Homo sapiens: one gene and its partners. The protein of the gene in region 1 purifies or fractionates together with the protein of each later gene. This does not show direct contact. Each region holds a gene or a part of one and is shown in the gene's direction. Other genes may lie near its edges.

The links.
Region 2: the proteins of PRR5L (region 1) and RICTOR purify together in Homo sapiens (affinity purification with western blotting; 3 studies listed by BioGRID and IntAct, with this or other methods). This does not show direct contact.
Region 3: the proteins of PRR5L (region 1) and MAPKAP1 purify together in Homo sapiens (affinity purification with western blotting; 2 studies listed by BioGRID and IntAct, with this or other methods). This does not show direct contact.

What each region holds. Positions count from the first base shown.
Region 1 is NC_000011.10:36,299,079-36,306,326, forward strand, and holds part of PRR5L (proline-rich protein 5-like), read left to right. Parts: intron 1-7,248. UniProt on the Homo sapiens protein: Associates with the mTORC2 complex that regulates cellular processes including survival and organization of the cytoskeleton.
Region 2 is NC_000005.10:38,952,369-38,959,616, reverse strand, and holds part of RICTOR (rapamycin-insensitive companion of mTOR), read left to right. Parts: intron 1-295; coding exon 296-422; intron 423-785; coding exon 786-950; intron 951-1,097; coding exon 1,098-1,174; intron 1,175-1,886; coding exon 1,887-1,965; intron 1,966-3,912; coding exon 3,913-4,022; intron 4,023-4,755; coding exon 4,756-4,843; intron 4,844-6,063; coding exon 6,064-6,156; intron 6,157-6,525; coding exon 6,526-6,632; intron 6,633-7,191; coding exon 7,192-7,248. UniProt on the Homo sapiens protein: Component of the mechanistic target of rapamycin complex 2 (mTORC2), which transduces signals from growth factors to pathways involved in proliferation, cytoskeletal organization, lipogenesis and anabolic output.
Region 3 is NC_000009.12:125,438,074-125,445,321, reverse strand, and holds part of MAPKAP1 (target of rapamycin complex 2 subunit MAPKAP1), read left to right. Parts: intron 1-723; coding exon 724-821; intron 822-6,309; coding exon 6,310-6,435; 3' UTR 6,436-7,248. UniProt on the Homo sapiens protein: Component of the mechanistic target of rapamycin complex 2 (mTORC2), which transduces signals from growth factors to pathways involved in proliferation, cytoskeletal organization, lipogenesis and anabolic output.

The sequences.
Region 1 (7,248 bases):
CTGTCAGCTTTTCTCTGAAGGTAAATTTCCATTCCTCCTGGTGGTCCTTGTCAGAAGGACCTACACATCCCAGAGGTTGGCCACAGTACATCTCTGGCTTATGGAAAATGCTCGTTTCATTATCCCAGGAAATCCAAAGCTACCACGTTCTCTCCACTCCAGCTGATCACTCCATCTCTCTTGTATTTTGGGATTCACAGACATGATTCAGACATCAGCCCTCAGTGACAGTCAACCTCCAGGGACACAGCATCTTGGAGGCCAATCTTGGAGGGTGGGTAGTGGGCAATTGGGACTTGGAGTGCTCCTATTGCTTTCTCCAAAATTCCTCCTCTACACCACCAACTGTTCTTCTCACCCAGCTTTCTTTGTGGGCTGAAGATGGTCAGTTAAGAGGGAAACCAGTTTCGTGCCACTTCTTTTGTCAGCCCTGCATGATGGCCTCAGTGTCACAGCTCACTTTGAAACATGTCTTTTGTCCTTGGCAATACCTGAACTGAGACCATAGTCATTTTTACATCCTGCTACACAAATAGCATCTCATTTAGTTTTCATAAAGAACCCTAGGAGTTCTTCTGCATATGGAAGAGGAATCTGGAGCTCAGAAAGGTTAACGAATTCACCCAAAAGAGATTATTCAGCGAGTGGCGGGGAGGGGAGTAGAGATTCAAGCTTTAACCCACTTCATTATTTACTTCTCTGGGCCTTCATCATCCAGGCTTCTTAGAGCTTTTACCTACTGGAGTTTGGTCTGTGCTGCTAAAATGTTTTCTTCTTAGCAGAAAACTATAAAGGTAAACAACAACAACAACAACAACGACAAACACTTCATCGCTGCTTGCACCACTTGTGATGCAGGGGCTGGCAACAGGAGTGACAGGTGCATCAGGAGCTTTCTTAAGTATGTTGTGAGATGAGCTCTGTGTACCCAGGAAAGTCTTTGACTGCTTGAAAGTCCTCCATCCCTGCCCCACTATAATTTAATCAGCAGAATAATGAAGTACAAGTGAAATATCTTTTTTTTTTGTAGAAATGCATAAAAGCAATTCTGTTAGTCTGTTTTGTGTTGCTGTAAAGGAATACCTGAGACTGGGTAATTTTTAAAGAAAAGAGGTTTATTTGGCTCACGTTTCTGCAGGCTGTACAAGCATGGCACTTGCATCTGCTCAGCTTTTGGTGAGGCCTCAGGGAGTTTTACTCATGGCAGAAGGTGAGGGGGGAGCATGTCACACGGTGAGAAAGGGTGCAAGAGAGTGCCAGGCTCTTTTTAAATGACCAGCTTTCTTGTGAACTTACAGGGTAAGAACTCACTCCATTATCACCAGGGCAGCACCAAGTCATTCATGAAAGATCTGCCCCCGTGACCCAAACATGTCCCACTAGACCCCACCTCCAATGCTGGCAATCTCATTTCAACATGAGATTTAGAGGAGACAAACATTCAAACTATATCAGCAATATTGCATTCTGAGAATTTTATTCAAGGCAGAAGGGGCCATATCATCTCACCTTCTAGCTCCCAGGAGGTACTTAACCTAAAGATGACTTCCGAATATGAAGCTATTTAAAAGAAAAAAAAAATCCTCTTTTTTGTTTAGATTTTTAATTATTTTCTTTACAAATAAAGAAGCCCAAGCCTGTCATTGCCCATTCTTCCTTAGGAAAGGGAAAGCTACATATGGGCCTGGCAGTGGTTCAGAGGCTGCCTGCCAAGGCTGTGTCAGGTTCATCTGGCAGCCGTGCAGAGCTGGGCTGGGCTGGGCCGGGCTGAAGTTGGGGCCCAGGGCACAGGCCTGGGATGGGCTGGAGCTGCAGCTGTCTCCGTCCAGTGAGGAAGGGGAGGATGATATTTCTGTTCACCCACTCAGCAATTATTTAACAAACATTTATTGTGCCCAAGACTTTTGTGGGCTCTCTGCCAGGAAAGGGCAGGTCATTGAATGGGCCCTGGGAAAAATGATGTCTGAGCTTCTCTCCAGTTCTCAGAGAAAGGTAAAGCACTGGAAGCGGGCGATTCAGGGAGAGGGCATGGAGGCATGGAAAAGCATGGTGTGCTTGGAGATCTATGGATGGTTTTGAACTGCTCAAGCACAGGCCGGGGTCAAGGGAGGGCAGGGGTCAGAAGAGGGAGGAGGAAGAAGGTGGAGGAGCTTCCAAATTGGAACTTGGTAGGCAGGTTGGGCCCTGGGAGGGCCACAGAAGGGTCTGAAGCAGAGTTGTGACCAGAGTGGGTTTGTCTTTTAGAGGGAACTCTGAGGCAGGACGGGGACACACTTGAGCATCAGAGGCGTCAAGGCTCAGGGAGAGGGGTGAGGGAAGATGAAGGGCAGAACCGAAGCCCTGGCTGAGATCATGGGAATGGGGAGGGGTTAAGCTGGAGAGAGTGGCAGCCACCTGAGGGAGGGGTTGGTCTAGAATGTCTTTCAGGTTTCTGACTTGAACTACAGAAGGGATGCTATGCCATGATGGGTCAGTGTGTGTGTAGGGGGCCGAGGACCCTTCCCAGCTGGAGGAAGTGGGGCATGGGGGGTCGGGGTGTTGTCCTTTCTTTTAATAAACATACGGAGGGGCTGCCCTGAGCTGCGTGCTGGGAGAGGAGAGCAGAGGGGACACCTTCCATTCCTTACAGAGCCCTTGGGCCAATGAAAGAGCAATTCAAATGCAATGGAGCAGGAAGACCCTAAGAGAGAATTGGAAAATGACTGGGAAAATTTGAATGTAGACCAAGCATTCAGTGATATTAGAGAATTATTAATTTTTTAAGGTGTGATGAAATTATTGTGTTTTAGGTGGGAGAATACCCCCTCATCTTTTTTTCTTTTGGGGAGATGCAAGCTGGAATATTTAGGAGTGAAATATCATGATGTCTGTAATTTACTTGGAAACAAATAAATACAGAGGGAGAGAAGGAGAGACAGAAAGAGAATGTGCAAATATGGCAAAACGTTACCAATTGTTGGGAGTATATGGGAGTTTACTGTACTGTTATTGCACTGTGCTTTTGGCTTTTCTGTGTGAAATATTTTGTAGTAAAAACTGGAAAATACAAAGTAGCAAGCGCATTGATGGGAGGTAAGGGTACCACAGGAACACAATGAATGGCCTCTAATCAGAATTTGATGCATGAGGGATGCTTCTAAAGAAAACAGCATCTAAGACCTGAGGAAGAGTGATCCTTGAAGCGGGGATGGGGAAGAATTTTGGGGAGAATGTACTAGGCAGAGAGGGAACAGCCTGTGTGTAGGCCTGCTGGCCTGTCTTGCTAGAGGAACAAAAAGACATTTAACGTGAGTGTCAAATGTGAAGCAGAGTCACCAAGAGATGGGAAGAGAAAGGTAGGCAGGTCCTATAGAGTCTTATAAGTTTGGACTCTGTCCCAACCACAGCATAACTAGGGGGGCTTCATTTCAGAAAGATGCTGGCTCAGCTGGGTGCGGGGGCTCACACCTGTTATCCCAGCACTTTGGGAGGCCAAGGCAGGCAGATCACCTGAGCTCAGGAGTTCGAGACCAGCCTAGGCAACATGGCGAAAACCCATCTCTACTAAACATACAAAAAATTAGCTGGGCATGGTGGCGGGCACCTGTAATCCCAGCTACTCGGGAGGCTGAGGCACGAGAATCGCTTGAGCCTGGGAGGTGGAGCTTGCAGTTAGGTGGAGGTTGCAGTGCACTGCACTCTAGCCTGGGTGACGGAGCGAGACTCTGTCTCAAAATAAAAATAAAAATAAAAAAGAAAGATGCTGGCTCACGTGTGTGCAGTTGCTAGGATCTGGCAGCCCCTGTTTTAAGCACTTCATCTATATGAGTTCGCCTAATCCTCACCATGACTTTATCAAGGATGTGCAGATTAGCACCTCTATTTATGAGAGAAGCCAGCCAAGGCACAGAAGAGTGAAGTCACCTGCTCAAGGTCACATATCTGGAAGAGTCAGGATTCGAGCCCAGGCATCCTGGCTCCAGAGCCCACGCTGCCCTAATCGCAAGGCAACACTGCCTCTTGAGTTTAGTCTCTCTGTGTGGAGAAGGAAGTGGAGGGAAGCAGGACTCTTCCTCAAGACAGGAAGACAGCTTAGGAAGCAACCGTACACATCCAGACTCAAGGTGATGGTGACTTGAACTAAAACAATAACAGTGGTGATGGAGAGAAATAGATGTAATAGAAAGTTATTTTGGAGTGAAATCTATAGGACTTGGTACTTGAACAGTTGTGTCAGGGAAGTCAAAGACAATGCCCAATCCATACCCCACTGAACACCTAGCTCTGTGCCTTCTTGGCAGGAGAAAAGGGCTAGAGTAAGAGAATGTGGAGATACCTTGCTCATAAAAAAATCGAGAAGACATTATCAGAACCATAACATCCCCTTCAACTGTGAGGAGCAGACTGTTGTCCACCCAACCTACATATCTCTTTCCTGGCTTCCACTAATCCTCACTTTTGGTGCAACTTGCCATTTTCACTGTTTGAATTTTTTAATCTGCACCTGTTATAAAATAGAGATCATTCCTTTATCCTGACTTGACTGGAAAAACAGAGTCAAACCACAGCTCCTGGTCCCTTCCCTAATTGTCTCTCAACTCACTAACCTGCCATTAGCCTTGAGTGATGTGACGTATGCACCTGTCTGTGTTTCACAAGAAGCCCTTGATCCTTGGGCCTCTTCAGAGGGCTTAACTGGAATGAAAAATTAAACAAATATTGAAAAAACAATAGAACGAACAATACATGGTCATGTCCCTCTAATCCTTATTGATTTTTAAGATCTTCTCAGGCATGAAAACAAGATTCACTGCTAGCAACCCAACATTGGATTTCTGTTAACTGAAAGAGTGGCTTATTGATCAGGGTGGGATGTCCAGCAGGGCAGGAGCAGGCCTGTGTCTGCCCCACCAGCTAATCAACCCCAATTCAACCCTAAGAGGTGGAGCTCAGTTGGGTGAGAGCTGCACTCACTTGAAATGAGGGACACTGTGGCCCAGGAGGGTCCTCGCAGCATCCTCAGAAGAGACTGAGGCCATTCCTCAGTTATATACCAACTCTCTGGGGACCTCATCTTTTTCTTGCTAAAGGCCTCAAGAATTCCTCATTATTTTTTTCTGTGTCAAAAATAATATAACTACTACATGAATTCATGTGTAGAGGACATGGATCTGCAGAATAAAATGGGTTCATCTACATATGTTCCTGCCTTTCATTCCTCTGTCTCAAGGAATTGTTCATTTAACAACAGATTCAGCTGTTATTCTATGCTGTTTGAAGGTTGGCAATACAGCCATTCACCATATACCAAATGGCAAAAATCCCTGCTCTCATGGAGCTTTTATTTTAGGGGATATTGTGAACAGTTTGGTGAGGAGCCTTCCAATCCATATATGTATTAATACAAACAGGTTTGTGCTGTACATATGATTCTGTGGCTGGCTTTTTTCACTAACAACATGTCTTGGAGCTCATTCTGTGTCAGCATGAATGGTCCTTCCTCATTCTTTGATAGTTGCATAATGGTTCTCTGCAGGGATAAACCCCTGCTAGTAAACATACAGTTATAATTTTTGTTTTCACAAATAGTGTTGCAGCGAACTTCCTTCTGCATGTACTGTTGTACACACACAATTTTGGACACTTACTAAGCCATGATATATAAATTAATTACCCTCTCTGTGCCTCAGTTTCCTCATCTGTACATTGAAAGTCATGGTAATAATCTCCCTCTAGCCATCAGGGAAAAGCAAATGAAAACCATGATGAGACGCACTTTACACTCACTGGGATGGATATAATTTTTAAAAATAGATGACAAGTGTGGGAGAAGATGTGGAGAAATTGGAATCCTCATGTGCTGCTGGTGGGAATATAAAATGATGCAGCTGCTTTGCAAACAGTCTGTGCATTCCCCAAAAGGTTAACACAGAGTTACAATTTAACCCAGCAATTCCACTCATAGGTATATACTCAAGAGAAATAAAAACACATGTTGCCACAAAAATTCGTTTAGAAATGTTCATAGCAGCATTATTCATAATAGCCAAAAGGTGGAAACAACCCAACTGTTCATCAACTAATGAAGAGATAAATAAAATTTGGCATATTCACACACAGGAATATTATGTCACATTAAAAAGATATGAAGTACTGATACAGGATCCAACATGGATGACCTTTGAAACACTATGCTAAGTGCAAGAAGTCAGTCATAAAAAGCTACATATTATATGATTCCATTTATATGAAAGGTCCAGAATTGCCAAATGTATAATGACAGAAAGTAGATAAGTGGTTTTTAGGGGCTGGGGTTGAGTGGGAAGGGAGGAAATGGAGAGTGACTGTTAATGGGTATGAAGTTTCCTTTTTGGGGTGATAAAAGTGTTCTAAAATTTGCTGTGGTGATGGTTGTACCTATCTGTGAATATACTAAAAGCCATTGAATTGTATACTTTAAATGGTTGAATTGTATGGTAGGTTCTATGGTCTGAATATTTACGTCCCCCTGAAATTCATCTTTTGAAACCGAATTACTAATGTGATGACGTTTTGGAAGTGATTAGGTCATAAGGGTGGGGCCCTCCTGAATGAGATTTTTGCCATTACTGAAAAGGCTGGAGAGAGACCCTTCACCCCTTCCATCGTGAGGATACAGCAAGAAGGCACCGTCTATAAACCAGAAAGTGGGCCCTCAATAGACACTGAATCTGCCGGTGCTTTGATCTAGGACTTCCCAGCCTCCAAAACTGTAAGAAACAAATTTCTGTTGTTGATAAGCCATTCAGTTTATGGCGTTTTGTTATAGCAGTTTAAATGGACTGAGTTAGTATATGAATTATATTTCAATAAAGCTGTTATTAAGTAAAGTAAGGTTGCTGTGAGGACTGACTGAATTACATAAGATGTGTATAAAGGTGCTGGCACTTTGTCTTTTTGGGCCTAGCTTATGTCACTTAGCCAGGAATCTCCTTTCAAATGACAGGATCTCATTCTTTTTTATGGCTGAATAGTACTCCATTATGTATATGTACCATATTTTCTTTTTTTAATTATTACACTTTAAGTTCTAGGGTACATGTGCACAACGCGCAGGTTTGATACATAGGTATACATGTGCCATGTTGCTTTGCTGCACCCATCAACTCATCATTTACATTAGGTATTTCTCCTATCCCTCCCCCAGCCCCCCATCCTGGTGTGTGATGTTCCCTGCCCTGTGTCCAAGTGATCTCATTGTTCAATTCCCACCTATTGTTCAAAACCCAC
Region 2 (7,248 bases), on another chromosome or scaffold:
TGCTTTCTTTCCAAAAAGCTTGTTTATATTAGGAATTTTAAAAATATACGTTGAATTGACTTCATGCTCTTCCCACTCCAGCATTCAAAATAGTAACTATGTATGATGATTGATGTGTTCATTGATTGTGGTAATCTTCACAATGTATGTGTATATCAAATCAAGTTATACACTTTGAATAATACAATTTTTATTTGTCATTTATACTTCAGTAAAGCTGGAAAAAATATTTGTTTAATTAATGTATCAATATAGTAATTTCTTTTAACCATTCTTATTTTTTTTTTCTTTTAAGTCTCCTTAATCTTTGCTCCTTGAAAAACCAAGATCACTTGCTAAAACTTACTGTTTCTAGCTTGGACTATAGCAGAGATGGATTGGCTAGAGTCATCCTTTCCAAAATTTTAACTGCAGCTACTGATGTGAGTATAACATAGCCAGTAAAACTATATTTATAACCAATTAATTCACTACTTTATGAATTTTGGGCTAAGTAAAATTAAGTTCTAAGAATATGATATGGAAATTGAGTTTACTTTAAAATTTTAGTTTCTCCAAGGAACTGCATATAGTACTCAGATTTTTGTATCGGGGGAAGAAGCTGCTAGATAGAAAGGGAAGTATTCTATTTCACAAGAACCAAAAAAGTATTCATATCAAGGGCTAGACCACCAATTCCAGGCATTCTTCCCTTTTCAAGTAGCAGGACTATCCCAAAATAAAATCAAATAGGCTATTTATGCTGAAGTTTTTTTTTTTTTTAATGTATTCATTTATCCTTATAGGCCTGCAGACTCTATGCAACAAAACATTTAAGGGTATTATTGAGAGCTAATGTTGAATTCTTTAATAATTGGGGAATTGAGTTGTTAGTGACCCAGCTACATGATAAAAACAAAACGATTTCCTCTGAAGCTCTTGATATCCTCGATGAAGCATGTGAAGACAAGGTAAAGGTTCATTTTTTATAATTTAATACTTAAATTTTTTTGAAATACTCATTTGACAATTATGTAAAAGTATATAATAGGCATTTTGGAACTAAAAATTTTGCTATTTTTGTGCAATTATAAAAAAATAATGATAATCTCTTTTAGGCCAATCTTCATGCTCTCATTCAGATGAAACCAGCGTTATCCCACCTTGGAGACAAGGGTTTGCTTCTCCTGCTGAGGTAAATTTTAAGTAAATTTTCTGTTATGTTTTTTTGTTGTGTTCTTTGGCAGTGTATATTAAAGATAGATTCAAATCCAAATGGGAAGTACGCTGAAGAGTTTACCTTTTAATATTGAAACATTGTCTTTTCATTATTTTGGGTTTTTCTTTTTTTTTAATTTTTTTGGTCTGTTCATACTTTTCATGACATTTTCCTTTTTTTTATTGAGACGGCCTCGCTTTGTCATCCAGGCCAGAGTGCAATGGTCCAATGTTGGCTCGATGCAACCACTGCCTCCCAAGTTCAAGTGATTCTCCTGCCTCAGCCTCCCAAGTAGCTGGGACTAAAGGCGCACACCACCACGCCCAGCTAATTTTTTGTATTTTTAGTAGAGTTGGAGTTTCACCATGTTGGCCAGGCTGGTCTTGAACTCTTGACCAGGTGATCCACTCACCTTGGCCTCCCACAGTGCTGGAATTACAGGCGTGAGCCCCCGTGCCTGGCTGACATTTTCTTTATTGTGATTGGGTTCGCGTGTTGTTGCAAAGATTGTGAAAATTTATTTGTAATTGAAGTTATAATAAATTATAGTTGACCTTTTAGTTTTAGGAACGAACTATTCCTAAAGTCTTTTAGCTCCTTATACTTTTTTAAATTTTAGTTATTTTAGCTTCTTAAGATACGTTTTTGCCAGACTCAATGTTAAACTATTGCTTGTTTTAATTTGCAGATTTCTCTCCATTCCAAAAGGATTTTCCTATCTGAATGAAAGAGGTTATGTAGCAAAACAATTGGAAAAGTGGCACAGGGTAACTTCTTATTTGAATAAAGTTGAATTTGTGTGTTTTTATCTTCTGAAATTGATTTGTGAATTTAGAGGATGGTTTTTTTATATCAGTGTTTTGAAATTAATAAGGTTAAATATTTAAACATCAATATCAAGTTGAATCCTAAATTCTGCATAATTGCTAGTATTTATAGTTATACATTTTTTTAAACTACAGTTATTTCTTTCATTCTGAACTGTTGACTGTATTCGTTCTATTGAAATTTGACTCTCAACTCATTTGATTTTATAATCTAATTTTTGGCCCTGTTTATCATTTCTTTCATTCTTCGGTCCCTTAATATGGCCTACAACTTTGCATGAGCCCTTTAAGCTAAAACCAAAATAATTTTTTTAAATGAAGGGAGATTGAAATCCCAAGGAGATATAATCATTTAGTTAAACTTTACTTTAGGATACTACTTTACCTAAATCTGAGAATGAACTTCTTGCTGTCATAGGGAAACCTGCTAAGAAGGGAGTAGTTTGAAGATATGAAACAACTTTTCTAGCTTTTCTTTAGCTGGTGATTGCTGTGGCTTCATTATTTTGTTTGAAGTATTATAAGTCATCGAAGCATCTTGGAAACCCATGGTCAAAATGATCTTTACCGATATAAATGATTTTTAGATTTTTCATCATTTCAGATCAGTTATCCTGTTTTCTCTTTTTTGTTAACATAGTTACACATTCTTTTATAGTGTCTATATTGAACCATATTTCATAAGAGATACTCCTTAAATGGACTAAAACTTCCAAGCATACAACTTAAGGCATGAAGTCTTTTAGTATTTGATGAATTGTAGAACTGAGACAAGATGTGATAGGTTTGTTTCCTAGAAGATATTTAAATCATCATAATAAAATTTATTATACAAATCATAGTATTAGAAAATTGCTTAGAATATTGGTGCAGTGCTTGAAAATAGCATAAAATATAAGAGCTATAACAAAGTTACATGCAAGGTATAAGGGAACACAGAGGAGAGATTAATGATTCTGCCTTAGGGATTATCAAAAGAAATGTTGAATAGGAGCCGTAGATGTGATACTTGAAATGGTCTTGAGGAGTAAGTAGGCAAATAAATTAGAAGAAGGGTATCCACGGAAGAAGGAGCAGAATAAAGCTGTATAGATCATTGGAACATTATAGACTTATGAAGAAAGTCATATTCCAATGTAGTTGGAACTAAGGTAAGTGTGGAGTGGCAAGATGAGGCTGGAATGGTAAATTAAAGCTAGATTGTAAAAGGCCTCGTAAGCCATATTATATCATCCTAAGGGATTTCAATTGTATATATAGTGGGGAATCCTTAACAGCTTTTAAAGAGTGATCAGAGTTGTGCTTTAGTAATCTGACAGGTTGCAGTGAAGAGGAGGAATTTTGATCATTGAAGGTAAAGTCTAGAAATATTGACACAAGTTTAGAAACAAGAATTGATGAGTGCCTGAACTTCACTGGTAGTTAGGTTGATTAGATGAGGACGCATTTTCTGGGTATTTTCAAAATAAGATGGACAGAATTTGTGGGCTGATTGGATACAGTAAATAAGAGGTCCAACTTGGCTCATAAGGTTTCTAATTTAATGACAATATATAATGGATCACTATTAAGAGATCACATTTATAAAAAGTGATTCAAGATTAGGCTAATGAATTTTCAATATGTTGAACTGGCATTGTCTGTGCAGTAACCACGTGATGGCTTGAAAATGTGGATCTGGAGCTCAGATTTGTGAGGAAAATGGCAGATATGGGGGTCATTAGTATATAGTACTAGTTGAAACCTGAGCCAAAAGCTTATGGATATGATAGAACATTTGCATTCATAATACCTTGATCTGTCTACCCTTTGCTAAGTATCTGACATATTTTAAATTTAGTGACTCATTGTGATACTATGTGCAATTAAAACAATATTATCCTCTAGGAATACAACTCCAAATATGTTGACTTGATTGAGGAACAACTCAATGAAGCACTTACTACTTACCGGAAGCCTGTTGATGGTGATAACTATGTTCGTCGGAGTAACCAAAGGTGCGTACCCAGTTATCAGATTTAAAACTAGTTCATCATAAATTATTTTTAACATTTCTGAGTTTTTGTATATTCTGCTTCTAACATGATATAGGAAGAATCTTAATGCGCAGCATTAATTGCTCAAAAATTCAGTGGCATTCATGGCATGTTGAATATCCTTACTGATAACGCATTCACATATACTCCATGCTGGCACCCCAGTCTGTATTTCTAGGCCTAGATTCTCTTACCAGTACTTTGAGCTCTGATAAACTGTTACAGGTTGAACATCACTTATCCAAAATGATGAAATGTTTCGCATTTCAGATTTTTTCAGATTTGGAATATTTGCATATATATAACGAGATACCTTGGGAATGGTACCCAAGTCTAAACATGAAATTAATCTGTTTCATATACGCCTTATACACGTAGCCTAAACATAATTTTATGCAGTGTTATAAGTAATTTTCTGTATGAAATAGTTTGCATTAAATACTAATGTGTGGAATTTTCCACTTACAGTGTCATGTCAGTGCTCAAAAAGTTTTGGATTTTGGATCATTTTGGATTAGGGAAGCCCAGCCTATATTTTACCTGAGAAATCCTCATTCCTTGTTACTTTCATATTTTTATTTATGCTGGAGAGTTGTATCTAATTTTATTTATCAAACATTTATTAAAATTCTTTTGTTCTAATTAGCATATTTAAATTAGCCAAGAGATATAGTAATCATCTTTATTATACTAGATTACAGCGTCCTCACGTCTACCTGCCTATACACCTTTATGGACAACTAGTACACCATAAAACAGGCTGCCATTTGTTGGAAGTACAGGTAAAAACATAATTCACTTATTTTAAGTAGCTACAATAGTAAAAAAAAAACAAAATCTTAACATTGCTAAAATATTACCTTTGCAAAAACTTCTCAAAAGCTTTAATATCAGTGGTGTAATTGCTTTTAAATTCATCTATTTTGTAATTGACTTAGGCATTCTATATTTATTAACCTGAGAAATATTAATGGCCTTGCAATGCATTAACTGACTTGTGTATGACTTTTTGAATAACTAACTTGTTATGTAGAGTAAGCAATCCAATGAAGATCTGAGTTCTTTTTTTAGAGTTTAGTGGAGAAATTCAGATCTCCAAAAACGTACTGAAAAACCGAGTTTTTCTTCCACTCATTGGGAAATTAAACTGAACCTAATACAGATTAAGTTATCCTTGTTGAGCAATAAATTGAAAGTTGCTGGTTGTGAGCACATTTTATTCTCGCGTACTTCATGGAATGTTAACAAGCATAGGCAAGCAGTTGTTCTTTGAGTTATAATATGTACACCGCATTTATGGTTGTGAATATGTCATGCAACTGTTTCCAATAAATGTAACGTTTCTCTTATTTTAGAAATAAAGTTATAGGAATATTTGTTTTTGTGACAGAACAATAGTTATTTAACAATTTAGTTCCCGATTGTATCAGTATTCATCTCAAGAGCACAAAGTTTTGCATAAATGTACTCTATAGTTTCATGTGTTTTTATATTACGTCTGTGAAAACTGTTGGGACAAGTATTTTCATATTAACATTTGAAAATTTCACTAAAAATTTAAATGATTTTCTCAGTGTTACTACTTACATAGTATGATAAAACCTAAGCACTAATTTACTTTCTGTTTTAAAGAATAAGTATGATTATTTAGTAATACTAAGTGCCAAGTACTTTGGTAAGCACTGTATGTGCAATAATTTATTAAATCTTGAAACCTTATGATGCAAATGTTATTATCACTCTTCTAGATATTAGGAAATCAAAGGATGAGGAGATGAAGTAACTTGCCCAAGGCCATGCAGTTAATAAGTGATAATTCTAGAATGTGAATTCAGAACCCCTGCCCTATGCTGCTTCTCAAGAAATTTTACATAAAATTATTTAGAATTTAAATATGCAAAAATGACAAAAAACAAACGTTATACTGGTTTTATGATGCAATAATAATATATTAAATACATAAATATATTATTACTCATGGTATTTTTTTTTCTTTCTCCAGAATATTATTACAGAACTCTGTCGTAATGTTCGTACACCAGATTTGGATAAGTGGGAAGAAATTAAAAAACTGAAAGCATCTCTTTGGGCCTTGGTTTGTAATAAACACTTCTGTAAGATCTTCGCAATTTTTAGATTTTTAAGTTTTTTTTTCATTTATACTAAATAGATAAATATTTTCTTTGGAACTACTTATTAGATTAATATTTAAGACTGGATTGTTCCTGCCAATATAAGTGTATTATCTCTATGTTGAAGAATAGATGGTTGAACTATTGGTTTCATGACTTTTGTTTTGTTGCTAAGACAACTAGAATTAATTCATGCCTAATGTTTTGTACTTGAGGAGGCTTTTACATTTTTTCTCTCTCAGAGATGAGGTTAAATTTGTTTCTTGGTAGCTTTCCAAATCTTTTGAAAGAGTGACTCTTATATTTGATGTAAGTGATTTCTTTTCTTTCAGGGAAATATCGGCTCATCAAATTGGGGTCTCAATTTGCTACAGGAAGAAAACGTGATTCCAGATATACTAAAACTTGCAAAACAGTGTGAAGTTCTTTCCATCAGAGGGTAGGTCATTTAACTCAGAAATCTTTCTAATGTAGACGTTGTTATTCACAAATGGATGTTAGGGGAAAGTATTTTATGATTAAGTGCAATGCATAACTGTTAATCCACTGAAAGTTCTAATGATACAAGATTATTAACTGTATTAAGTTAAACATCTAAACGAACTCCTTGTTTACTACTATAATTTGATTTTTATTATATTGAAGTTTACCTTGTAGGTAACAGGTAAGGCATAGTGTTGTACAGATACTCCAGTATTCCTGTAACCCAGCTGTTCCAGATTTATACTAGAAAAGCTAATATACCTTTTTTGCTCATGTTGCATTGTGTTCTTTTTATTTTGTTGTAATTACTATTTTTATTGGGAAGGTTTGCTTGTTTTTTATTGCTGCTAATTTATTCCTGACTAGTCTTAATAAGTTTTTTTTTTTCCACAAACGCAACCATTTTGGTGGGTTTTAGAGAAAGTTCAAAGTATGTATAGCAAATTAATCTGTGGTGGCTTTAAGAAATCTCAGCTTGGAATTATAACTGTTTTTACTGCATCTTTTATATACAGGACCTGTGTATATGTACTTGGGCTCATAGCTAAAACCAAACAAGGCTGTGATATTCT
Region 3 (7,248 bases), on another chromosome or scaffold:
GCAGCGGAGTGAGATGAGGCTAGACCAGGAAGCAGTCCCAGAAATGACAAGTGTCATCCTGAAGGTGGTAGGACGGGGCATGGAGAATGGAGACCTAGATCAGATTTATATTCAGAAGCTCTGCCCCCTGGAGTCGGTCGCTTTGTGAGGTGCCCACTTTCCATGGTGCCCCCCCCGCCCCCATCCTCCCAGGGTTGAGATGACCTGAGGCCTTTGGGAGCAGCTTCCAGCAGGGTCTAAAACTGGGATTCTCCCTCTCCAGGCAGGAGTCCTCTCCCAGCAGGAGCCCAGGCTGTGGAGCAGCCTCATAATAGTGTGGCTTTTGACCCTTCTCCTTCCTGTTGCTCATTTATCTGACTTTAAACAGTTAGTTTATTTTTAGAGTAATAATGTGGAGTTAATTAGCCTTCTCCCTTAAAAACGCCACCTTTTGCATGTAATTATCATATAGCAGCAGTTCCGTAAAGCCTTCCTAACGTGGCATTCCCCTGAATGCATTCCAGAGTGGAATGGGACCTAACTGGCTGTTGAGTCTTTAAAATTTTTTCATTGTCCATTTTATACCCAGCCTGTAATGAGAAAACGAACTACTCCTGGGAAGACTAGGTGCTGCTCAGCCTCCACTTGCTCTCGCTCGAATTGGAATGATAGGGGAGAACATATGGAGGCCCCCGCCATAGTTAACTCACCAGAACCCCTCAACACAGTTTTCTGTCTCTGCAGGTCACGCAATATTTAAACTCACGTATCTAAGCAATCACGACTATAAACACCTCTACTTTGAATCGGACGCTGCTACCGTCAATGAAATTGTGCTCAAGGTGAGTATTCCTTCTTGAACCAGAGACAGGGTAGGTGGGTCCAGCTTCTCTTCAGGCTGTTTGCGGCATGGCCGCAGCCCCACCCACTCCGCAGCTCTATAGAAGGTTCCCGGGCCCAGTTTGGCAGAGGAGGAGTGTCGCAGCTTGCCAGCCACCCAGGGGTGAGTGCCTGTGCCAGGGCCACACCAGCCCCCGCTCAGCTGCTCTGCACCTGCTTCAGTCAAAGCAGGACCCTTTTCAGTTTCCTCCCAATCCCAATAACCCTGGCTCTTCCTGTATTTGTTTATTCCTTTTATGTACTGTTTATTTTCCTGCAACCATTGTCAGGAGCTCCTTGAAGCTCCTGGAGCAGACTCTGAGGAAATTATTATTGTTTTGAAGATAATTATGCTGAAGGTGATTTTAGCAACCTGTTCTAAACATACCTAACTTTCTGCTAGACTTGTATGTCACCATACCTAAACAGTATACTCACTGAGCACCTTCCGTGTGCCTGGCCACGGCCTGGGATGCCACGGTGACAGACTCTGTCCCTGCCCCTGGAGAGCTTTTCCTCTACCAGAGGAAACAGGCATAAAACACAAAATTACAAAGAGATCGTTAGTCTCAAAGGTGTGGGTGTGTCACAGTAAACTGACTTGGGGTGGAGGTATGGAGGCAGGGAGAGCTGAACCCTGAAGGATGACTGAAAAGGCACAGATGTTGACCAGGTAAAGAGAGAGGAAGCACCACAGACAGGCAGCCTGGGAATGGGCTGAGGCAAGGCAGGCACAGGGGGATGGGGGGCTGGGGGGGCTGGGGGAGCTGGCGGGGCTGGCGGGGCTAGGCCGTGCAGGGCCTTGCAGAGTGGAGTGTGGCTGAGAGGAGCTCTGCTTGGCATGGGAGCCTCCAGGGGTCTTGCGGATTTGGGAGGTCTGGGATAGGACCTGAGATCATACGTTTCCAAGAAGCGCCAGATGCTGCTTTGGCCGCTGGTCTGGGCACCACACTCTGAGTAGCCCTGGACTAGGGGTCTCAGCCTCTCCCAAGCAGAGAATCCTTTCTTCAAGCCAAATCTTCCATAGGTTGATCAGATAGGAAAAGCAGCTGCTGTGGCAGAGCAGGGGCGAGGACCAGAGAGGGCTCCCCCACCCCTAGTTGTGTGACCCTGGCTAGTCACATCACCTTTCTGGGACTCAGTGTCCCCACCTGTAAAGTGGGGATCATAGTACCTATGCTACCCCACCCCACCAGGGCTGCTAGAGTACAAATCAGATGAGACATGGTAAACCTATGTAAGTTATCATTCAGTCTCTTCTGAAGAGTTGAAGTCATCACATAATAGCAGAAGTAGCGAAGATATGCTGAGGGACTGCACAGTGCAGGACCTGGGCCAGAGGCTCCACGTGTCCCATCACAGTGCATCTTCACAGCTCTGTGAGATCATGAGATAAAGTTGTTCCCATTTCCCAGATGAAAAGTGAGGATCAGGAATAAAGTAGCAGAGCCAGGATCATGACTCTGGTAAGTTGGCAGAACCAGAACTTGCCCCCAGATTTGACAGATTTCAGACTTGTGTTTTAATTCCCCAGATATGCATGACCTAAGAGTTGTGTGGGAGATTTCAATGAAATAGAATTGCGATCCAGGAATATATTGAGACACATTCCCCATGGCTGCAAAAGATTTTCAAAAGGAGTAGGTAGCAATTTAAAAGAGCAGCTGGAAGGACAGTTTGGAGCAGACAGAGTAGCATGATTAGCTGGATGAAAGGGAGAGGGTTCATAGACCAGCCTGATCAGAGCCCCTCCTTGGACCAAGGAGTGGGGACACGGGCCTGCCTGGGAGTGCTTGCAGCCAGCGAGCTTCGAGTTACCCACTGGAGCATCACAGACAGCACGGGCCCCTTGTGCAGAGTGTTCAGGGACCTGGCAGAGAAATATTCCATTACCCCGATAGGGGCTGGACTTTTTTTTTTTTTTTTTATAGCCAGCATTAAAATATTCAAGACTTGAGAAGGATTCTAGTAAAATTATAATCCCATGTTTGACATCAAAATAATTTTCACAACAGCAGATTGATGACAGAAACACAGGTTTATGACTTCAGTATGAGACTGTGGAAGATCAAGTGCAGAGAAATCATTTTACAGGTCCAAATGCTCCCTCGAAGCAGATGCTTCTCTGCAAAATCCGTGAGGTCTGTCACCTTCCCTAAAGTGTCTGTTTCCATATCAAAATATTTGCAGAAATATTGTGTCATGCACAAGACTCCAGAAGAGTTGTAGCATACCCTAGGCCTGATTTACTTAGAGCTAATGATCATGAGCCTGATGGAAGATGAGATAGTACTTCTCCCACCTCTGATTTTTTTTTTTTTTTTTTTTTTTTTTTGAGACAGAGTCTCACTCTGTTGCACAGGCTGGGGTGTAGTCGTGTGATCTCTGCACACTGCAACCTCCACCTCCCGGGTTCAAGTGATTCTCCTGCCTCAGCTTCCCGAGTAGCTGGGATTACAGGCACCCGCCACCAAGCCCAGCTAATTTTTTTCTATTTTTAGTAGAGAACGGGGTTTCACCATTGGCCAGGCTGGTCTCGAACTCCTGGCCTCAAGTGATCTGCCCACCTCAGCCTCCCAAAGTGCTGAGATTAAAGACATGAGCCGCCAGGCCCGGCCCCATCTCTGATTTTTATAGCAATTGGAATACTTAGTTTTATCCACCATTCCTGCAGTGTCCTGAGTGTGTCTTTGTGAGCTTTGCACCAGTACCAAGCAACGGAAGCCCAGCCCTGTGTCCGGGAGCTTGGGAGAAATGTTGTTGCCATCAGAAGCTCTTGAGGAGTCAGTTTAGACTCTAGTAATGCATGCTGTTGTTCTAGAATTCAGGAATTTTACATAAAATGAGAGCTTAGATGGAAATTGAAGGGAGGAAATAAGAGCCACAATCTGATGTCAAATAAACAATCATGAACAAAGCCTCCATCGAGCTTTTTGCGCTTGTAGAAATAGGAACGTCTCCCATTTATTGAACACCAGCTACATGCAGTACATCTAATGTCCATTATCTTGTTTAATCTTCCTGACCGCCCTCCAGAATGTAGACATTGTCCCCATTTTATAGAAGAGGAGATGGAGGCCCAAGGTCACAGAGCACACAAGGGTGGAGCCTCTACTTGAACCTGGCCCGAGAAGCTCCAGAGCCGCCCTCTTCCCATCAAGATGTCACTGAGCTAAGCCATGGGTGGTCCCTAATTCCACAGGCTTTGAGATGAATCTCAGAGGAGTTGTCGGGCTCTTCAAATCAGGTTCTTCTCGTGATTGAGTGATGGAGGCTGTGGCTTTATTGACCATGAAAACTCCCTATATTTTTATGCCTTAAGCTGTAAAATGCGTTGAAAATGAAACACTCTATAGTGCATAAAATTGTGCCAGTTTTAAGCCACAGCATATTAACCAGCTAATGGCAGAGCAAAGGGCGTTTTTATCTTTTGATTATTACATTAATCTTCCATTAACATTATCTATGTGATTATCACAAAGCACTGAAGATAATAAATTTGGGAAATAGTTGGCTTGTTAAGGATCATTTTAAAATGCTTTTGTCAAGTTATATGTGCCAAAAATACACTGAAAACACTAGGTTGGCTGAGTGTGCAAACAATATAATCCAAAGATTTCTTGTATTAAGAATGATAAAACCTCTTATTTCCATACACTGTATTGTCCCAAATCATCAACCTGGCCCTGCGGTCCTCATGATTTATTGCTCTCAGCTGGTAACTTGGCGAGGCAGCGGGCAGAGCGTGTCAGGCCTTCTGTACTCACGCACCAGCCTTTAACGCCTGCTGCTCCAACCAGCAGAGCAGAAAGTTGGGAGGGACAGTGTTGAAGCCTCGGCCATCTGAGGCGTTGCCATCTCGCGCTGCCTCCCCCGGGAGCCCTCTGGTTCCTTCTCGGAGTCAGCAGAAGCTCCTCTCCCTCTGGCACAGGACACATGGCCCTCGGAGTAGAATCAGCAGAGGCAGTGGCTGGCCTCTCTTGTCAGAAATATTCAGCCTTCTAGTCAAAACTTTTAGATACTTGCAGGTGAAGAGAAATAGCGTCTGTTCACCAAAAGCCCCAGCCAGAGGAGCAGAGGAGGTGAGAGGCTGCGGAGCAGGAAGGGGTGTTTGCCAAGCGCCTGACACCTTCTAGCTTTGTGACCTTGACTAAATGACATTATTGTCATTGGCCTTGACTTCCTCACCTGTGCATGGGGATGACAGTGGCATCTGTCTCAAGATTATTGTGAAGATTCCATGAGCGCTGAAAGGCACTCCGAGCAGTGCCAGTTGCCACCACTGATTTCACACTGCTGCTGCCGCCCATGCCCAGGCACAGGCTGTCCTCAGCACTGGGGCGTGTGCATCCCACTGTAGCACCCCTCCCTGGCTCCCACCACCTCATTTCACTAAGCCAGCCAAGCTCTCGCAGTTCCAGGGACACTCCCTTGTGGCGTGCCCCTGCTGTGCCTTGATGCATGCTGCGTCTCTCCTCCCCGTTGCGCACTCAAAAACTCCTGTGTATCCCTCAAAAGCCCGCTCACTCTTTTCCTCTGGAAGCCTTCCCTCCTCCACACCTCCCTGATACTCAGCCCCATTCCTTGATGCTCCTCTTTGCCTGCTGCAGTGCTGGTTCTGCTGCTGGACACCCACTCACCAGGCAGCAAGCTCCCCAGGGCCAGGACCAAGTCTCAGCGCTGTAGCGCTGGGGAAGCGCCTGGCGGTGCAGCTGCTACACAGAGTGGAAGATGCACATGCGACTCCGGGCAGACTCCCAGGGCTTCGTGGAAGCAGCAGCGTGCAGAAGGCCTGAGAGGAGCCCAGGAGGCAGCCCCGCCCTTCACACAGGGCTCTTTCAGCCCCCTCACAGCTCTCACCCTGACTTCCACGTGGCCTAGGCCACTTTGGCCTCCCTCTCTGAGCCTCTTTCCTTTTTGTCAAGTGAGCCCTGCCTGGCTGGGCACTCATGAGCCCTGAAGGAAGCACTGTGGTGGGAAGCTCTGCGCCTGGCTGGTGGGAGGCTGGATGGAGAGCCTGTCTTGGTTTGCTTTTCATCCCTGTGTTCTCGGCCTTCACACAGGGAAAGGCAGGCTCAGAGAGGTTATGTGCTTGTCCAGGTCACACAGCAGGTGGGAGGCATAGCCAGGCAGCCCAGGGCACAGCCTTCCGGGAGTGGCTCACGCCAGGAGGGAGCATGGGCTCCGGAACCTGAAGAGCTCGCCGCTCACTGACTGGGAAGCCTGGACTGGCCACTTGGCTTCTCCAAGCCTCTGTTTTCCCATCGTAGAGCAGCGGCTCTGGGCCCAGCCGCTGCCAGGTTGCTGTGATGACTGGACTCCTTCCACACGACAGCACCTGGCCCTGAGGCACCCGGCCCAGGTCAGGGCCTTCCCTGCCACCCCCTCCGATGCCCTGGGTGGGTAGGGAGCGGCTGGCAAGGTGACCGGGCTGTGTGCTCTTGTTTCTAGGTTAACTACATCCTGGAATCGCGAGCTAGCACTGCCCGGGCTGACTACTTTGCTCAAAAACAAAGAAAACTGAACAGACGTACGAGCTTCAGCTTCCAGAAGGAGAAGAAATCCGGGCAGCAGTGACACTGGCCTCCAGCCTCAATCTGTTCCGTAGCTCAGAGCCTGCCTGCCAGGGCCAAGTGCCCTAGAGTCCACCCGGTGTCCTGAAGTCCTCGGGGGGAGGCCAGCCCCTGGCTCACTGGCACAGGGCAGGTGGGCTCTCGGGGAAGGTGTCGGGGGCCCCCTAGGAGGGAGCGCTGGGGACATTGCCATGGGACGGAAGTCTGCTTGGCAGTGGCTTTGATAAGCGATGCTTGGGGGTCAGACCACCCCCTAGAGGAGCCACGTGCCGCCCAGCCACCTTCAATGCCTGCCACCCTGCCCGAGGATGTACAGAGCCGTGCCCACACATTTCCTTGCAACTTGATCAAATTTCTTAAAGCAAACAACAAAAATGTACATTTCTGTTTTTCCTTTTAATAAACAGGTGTACTCTTTATCATGGTTGGTATGATGGACCATTCTTTGGGGCGGAGGATTGATTATGTTACTCTCTTTAAAATCTGTTCCCATATTGAACAGGCAGATTGGAAAAGCTATGGTTCGATTTCTCAGAAGAAATGTTTAGGTCTTAGTCAATAGTTTTAACTATGCCATTTGTTTAAATGAGTGCATTTGCTTCGAGGGTAGTGTCTTACTAAAAGTTAGGAACAGAGACCTAGTGGTGTGTCCAAGGCCGTGTCACTTTCCCCTTCAGCACACCCCAGCTTCTGACCTCAGAGCCCAGGAGCTGCGTGGACAGTGTGGGGTGCCAGGAGGAGGGGCGGTGGCTGGTCCTCAGGCACGCTGCACTCCCAGCCAGACATGGTCTTTCCGTTTCTTAAGTAGCAAGTGTAG